Linked DNA regions of Homo sapiens: region 2 is linked to region 1. The links come from fine-mapping of genetic effects on gene expression. A gene starts in region 1. The other region holds a variant in brackets. All regions are shown on one strand. Distances are from middle to middle. Region 1 holds the start of UBQLNL (ubiquilin like). Region 2 has its middle 22 kb from the start of TRIM34.

Evidence for each region. PIP is the estimated chance that this variant, and not a neighbour inherited with it, causes the effect.
Region 2: its variant is the best candidate, but not a certain one, in a credible set for the expression of UBQLNL in lung (TOPMed, PIP 0.68).

Annotation. Positions count from the first base shown.
Region 1 is chr11:5,515,426-5,518,355 of GRCh38, reverse strand. UBQLNL (ubiquilin like) reads left to right here and starts at 1,657. Exons shown (of 1, transcript NM_145053.5): 1 at 1,657-2,930. The coding sequence starts at 1,915. It also overlaps the pseudogene OLFM5P.
Region 2 is chr11:5,645,269-5,648,198 of GRCh38, reverse strand. It overlaps a transcript of TRIM5 not described here. Among named protein-coding and RNA genes, the nearest start is that of TRIM34, 22 kb to the right of the region's middle. The variant T/G (reference allele first, on the strand shown) is at 1,258.

The sequences.
Region 1 (2,930 bases):
CCAAAGTGGCCATTGGTCCTAATGATTGGAAGACTGATTATATCTAGTGAGTTCTTTATGTAATTAATATCTCAATCAGTACATTAAGGTTCCCTTTAATAATGGTCTAGGTGGATTTGATAGGGAAAAAGTAAAATATTAGCTAAGAAAATGGTACCCTCTCTTTCTGATGCTTTGGCATCTCATATTCCTTTTTTCATAAATCCAGCTCCCGGAACTCAAGAGTTCTGTGATCTAGAATTGTCAATCTCAGGTTGGGAACACCTGATTCCAGTGCAGAAGCTGCAGGGCAGCTGGTCATTAGAGTAGGATATGAAAGTTCCCTTTCTTATCTCCACCTTCCTGTGAGGTCCCTGGGGAGAAAAGGGGCAAGATCTTGGTCTGGTAATCAATTTTTCATTGTCCTGGATCGATCTCACTTTTGAGTGCAATTGCAAGAGAATAGGCCTGAGTCTTGCTGTAGTAAGTTAGCAACTGGCCTTATAGCATGATGAGGATCTGACATGGATGGTGCTGGGGGTCTAGATATTCTCAATAAAGAATCATTGGTTTGATAGCAGAAGGTCTCCTGGCCAACGGCCTATCATCCCTTTGCTTGTCTTCAACACACTGGGAACATATGGGCTCGAGCTTTTTGCTTGTTCCTTAGCTATCTGTGTGGTGCTCCTCCCTCTCCAGGCAGGTGGATGGAATATATAAAATCCAGACCCTGAAGGCTTCCTAGTAACACAGAATATGCATACAATTTCATATATACATTCGATAAGACATGTACACTCTCACTCATATAAATAATTATTTCCATCTGCATCTAAATAAAAACCAAACACAATTCTCCAAATTTACATGGGACCAAGAATCCAGCTTTTTAGTTGCCTGTATTTGTCCCCTTAAGAATTTTACTACTAACCACCTCCTCTCCCACCTCTTGATTTACAGACGACATTCCCCCTTAATGCTTTGACATAAAGGTGGGCACACAAGAGTGGGTTAGGACATTGAAACAAATCATTCTAAAACTTCTGTTATATTGACATGTAGAAGAGACCAAGTGATATGTGAATAAAAGGCATATTATAAAAAAGAGCTAATTCACATTTAGTTTGGCATGTGCCTATGAAGAGCCTTCCTGGTTAGCCCTACTCCTGCTTCCTAGGACAGAGGAAAATTTTCCCCACCACATGGGAGCACAATTAAATATAGAATCCCAAAATCTAGACTCTATATAAGACCCAAATTTCCAGATCATTAAAAAAATTAATGCGCTCCTTCCTATGGGAGAGACTGCATTCTTATAGGAATGTGGCTTTATCTATGGCTTCAGTAGACCCAACTTTTCATACAAGTCTAACATCCCTATAAGGAACATACACACAGTATCACACGGAAACACACATCCCACATTTAAAAATATGGTTTTTATTTACTTTTTTGTTTTCTTACTAGTTCCATCCAGAGAACTTTGTCCCTGTTTTCTGGAAAATTATTTTATTTTATTGTAGAGCCCTGGACCCCTAAATATGTCCTCCTTCCCCAGCTGGCCCAGGGTGACTGCGAGGATAGAGTTGACATCACAATATCCCTTTTCTGAGGATTCATGCCCCTGGTGGGTGGGGTAGGAGGAGGGGTAGCCCTAGGAGAAGTCATCACCACTTTGTCCACCATGGGTGAATTATGAATCAGTAGCTATGCCAGGCCTCAGCTGGGCCACATCTGGAGAACTGGGGTGAGGGCACAACATCACAAAATATCTGGCCCCAGTCTGGTCACTCATCCCTTTTAGGGCAACAAGGAAACTATCCTGTGGCCTGAGAGCACAATACCTGAGACAAAGGCCAGCAGAAACATTTGTCTGCCCTCACCCTTTCTGCCCCAGCTTCCACCTGCTCCCCATCTGCCCACCCACTAAAGCCCATGTGGCATGCCATCTCTCGAACATCCAGGATGTCCCAGAGTGGATGTCCATCAGGTCTGCTGGCAGACAAAAATATCTCTTCAAGTGCCACTCGAGTGATAGTGAAGACTGCAGGCAACCAGAAAGACTTTATGGTAGCTGATGACATCTCGGTAAGGCAGTTCAAGGAGATGCTATTGGCTCACTTCCAATGCCAGATGGACCAACTAGTGCTGGTCTTCATGGGTTGCCTTCTCAAAGACCATGACACACTGAGCCAGAGGGGCATCATGGATGGCCACACCATCTACTTGGTCATCAAGTCCAAGCAGGGCTCCAGATCTCTAGCCCATTCCTTCCGGGACCTGCCAACGAATGATCCCTGCCACCGGGACAGAAACACCAAAGGAAACAGCAGCAGAGTGCACCAACCAACTGGTATGAATCAAGCTCCAGTGGAACTGGCCCACTTTGTGGGGTCTGATGCACCCAAAGTGCATACCCAAAACTTGGAAGTGAGCCACCCAGAGTGCAAAGCACAGATGCTGGAGAATCCTAGCATCCAGCGGCTTCTGTCCAACATGGAGTTCATGTGGCAGTTCATTTCAGAACATCTAGACACGCAACAATTGATGCAGCAGAACCCAGAAGTTTCCCGCCTTCTTCTTGATAATTCTGAGATCCTATTGCAGACTCTGGAGCTGGCCAGGAACCTTGCTATGATCCAAGAGATAATGCAGATCCAACAACCTTCACAAAACCTTGAGTATCCACTGAACCCACAGCCATATCTGGGCTTAGAGACAATGCCAGGTGGGAATAATGCCCTGGGTCAGAACTATGCTGATATCAATGATCAAATGCTGAACAGCATGCAAGATCCTTTTGGAGGAAACCCTTTCACAGCTCTCCTGGCAGGACAAGTGCTAGAACAAGTCCAGTCTTCACCCCCACCTCCACCACCATCACAGGAACAACAAGACCAGCTCACACAGCATCCTGCAACCCGAGTCATCTATAATAGCTCTGGTGGTTT
Region 2 (2,930 bases), 130 kb before region 1:
TTTTCTTTCTTCTTCCTAGAATGTGGATGGCATCATAAAGTGATATATGTGGGAGAACAGAGATTGTCCTTTTGTGTTGTGAGAAAAGATGTGTAGCCATTAGAATTGCCCGGAGTTCAATCAGAATAAAACATCTCCCAGGACAGGAAATTTAGATATAATATTATTGTAAATTTCTGGTCACAATTTAGGGTTTGAGCATTCTAAAACTACCGAGAATAAATCGCATTCTATGGTATAAAATTTGGGTGGTGGAGAGTCACAGAGTGTGTGGATCAATAGTGGTATTAGGGATAAGGTGTTGCAGTATCAGACCCCCGTGACATCACCATTGCATTACCTCCATCTAGCTCTGGTTTTGTATTTAATAGGTGTCTCAGCCGGGCGTGGTGGTTCACGCTTATAATCCCAGCACTTTGGGAGGCCAAGGCAGGTGGATCACGAGGTCAGGAGTTCAAAACCAGCCTGGCCAACGTAGTGAAATCCCCTCTTTACTAAAAATACAAAAATTAGCCAGGCATGGTGGCGTGTGCCTGTAGTCCTAGCTACTCAGGAGGCTGAGGCAGGAGAACTGCTTGAACCCGGGAGGTGGAGGTTGCAGTGAGCCAAGATTGCACCACTGAACTCCAGCTTGGGTAACAGAGTGAGACTTTGTCTCAAAAAAATGATGTCTCATTTGCTATAAGAGAATTATATCTTGTCTGCCAAGCACCCCAAATTTTTCATTCAGACAACTCCTATATATTTATATTTTTCCTGTGGGTATAGAAGAGAACAGATCCTTCCTTGTGATTCTATTTAGATTTAAAAAAAGAGATATGCATTTCTGGAATAGTTTTTTTCCTTGGTGTAAACAATTGATTCATCTCAGTCAGATACTTTAGAAGAGTATGAAAAGGTGACATCTTAGTGTCTAAAACTGTACACCTACTTGACAATATAGAGCTTTTCTAAACACACAAAATTCAGACCACTATTAGTTTGGTATTCATAAAATCCCCTTTGCCAAGTATTGGTAATTTTCCCCAAAAAACATGGAACCTCAGATATTATCTGAGCACTTCTCTAGTGGAAATAGGCTTTGAAGGTCTTAGGCCTCTCCAGACAGGATTCCTCTCCTGATACGTCTCAAACACCCAGGAGCCAGGTCCTGCAACCTCACTGTCTAACCATCTTTCTGGTAACCCACATCCATAGCAATGATGTTTCCACACATTAAATCGTTTTGTTAAGGCACCAAAGTTTTTTTGTTTGTTT[T/G]TTTTAAAATCCATTATTTCTTCATGTCCTATGAGCTCAAGAAGGTAGAGAGGGAGAGATTAATTATTTCATTTTGGAAGGAAGAAACTGTGCTTCTGAGAGGTTAAGACCATCCCATGGTCATACAGAGAGTAAGGGAGAAAGTGGACACGAGTACATTTTGTCTGGTTCTAGGGTCAAGGGTCTGCCCTCTCCCTTCTCAGGGAACAGAGTTCAAGTACATCAGTGGGGTGAAATGATAGGAAATCAGTGGTGTCCAAGGGTTACAAAGTCAGAGGTTTGGGAGTCAATTTTTTTTCATTCCTAGGGGTGAGAATTTGACTTAAGCTAAAAACGTTTCCCAAAGAATAAAGGGAAGTGTGTTGAGCTTCTCATCTAAGAGGAATGCTTCAAGCGTGTAAAGATGAGAAGAGCTAGAACAACTAGATCTGCAGTAGTCTAGTGGTGGCAGGTGCTAGACAGGGAAGAGAGCAGTTTCTAGGCGTAGATGGAAGAGATAAGGGAGGATGGACATTGTGTGCTGATGATGTGGTCATATTTGATGGAGAATAACCAAGAGACTGTTTCATGCTATTATTCGCAAATTCATTGCCCTAACATAGTCCCCTCCTCTTTCTCTGTTCTGGAGAAAAAATTGACGTCAGTGCTGCCTCCTTTGCATATAGTCAATATTATGAATTTTTATCATTTCAGAGTGGACAGACATCCAGTGCTACTGTGGTAAAATGATATTTCCAAAAAAGCTGTGCCTCTGGTGGTTGGAATTCTGGGAAGAAACATGAGGGTGGTTGGTGTATTTGGGGATATGTGTGTGTGTACGTGTGTATATGTATATTTATATAATATACATGTATATTAAAATGTATACATTTATATGTATTATACATATATAATCTAATATATTTATGTGTACTATACATATGTATATATGTATTATATATAATTATAAATTACACATATGTTATAAATACATACACATATTAATATACATTTAATATACATGTTTTATATATCTATATATATATCTATATATATCTATATATAGATATATATATATATATTTTTTTTTTTTTTCCAGAAGACTAGATGAGATGAAGAGAGCAGTTGTCACATCTGGGTAAAAGTCTCATCATCAGGGCAAAGAACAGGTGGGAATGTATCCAGAGAATCAACATACAATGAGCAAAAGTGAAGCTTTTCCTAGACTTGACCCTCATCAAATCTCCTCTGTCCCCACTCTCTTCTGAAGAAGGAAAGGTAGGCCTGTCTTTTTTTCTTCCTGATTGTAGAACTGACCCAAAACATTAGACCTTCAAAAGTACTCTCATTCTATGCACTTGAACACATATAATTTTATAATGTTTACATCATTTTATTATTGTGGTTCTACGGAATTTTCTGCTTCTTCCTGATTGTAAGATTGTTAATTTTAACCTATTCATTTTACAGAGATTTAAAACCTAGCATTGAATTGTATGACAATGTTTCATAATTTTTTGGTGATCTATATAACAAACCACTTTTTTCACAGTTTTTTTTTTTTTTTTTTGAGACAGAGTTTTGCTCTTGTTGCCCAGGCTGGAGTGCAGTGGTGCAATCTCAGCTCACTGCAACCTCCGCCTCCCAGGTTCAAGCGATTCTCATGCCTCAGCCTCCCAAGTAGGTGGGATTAC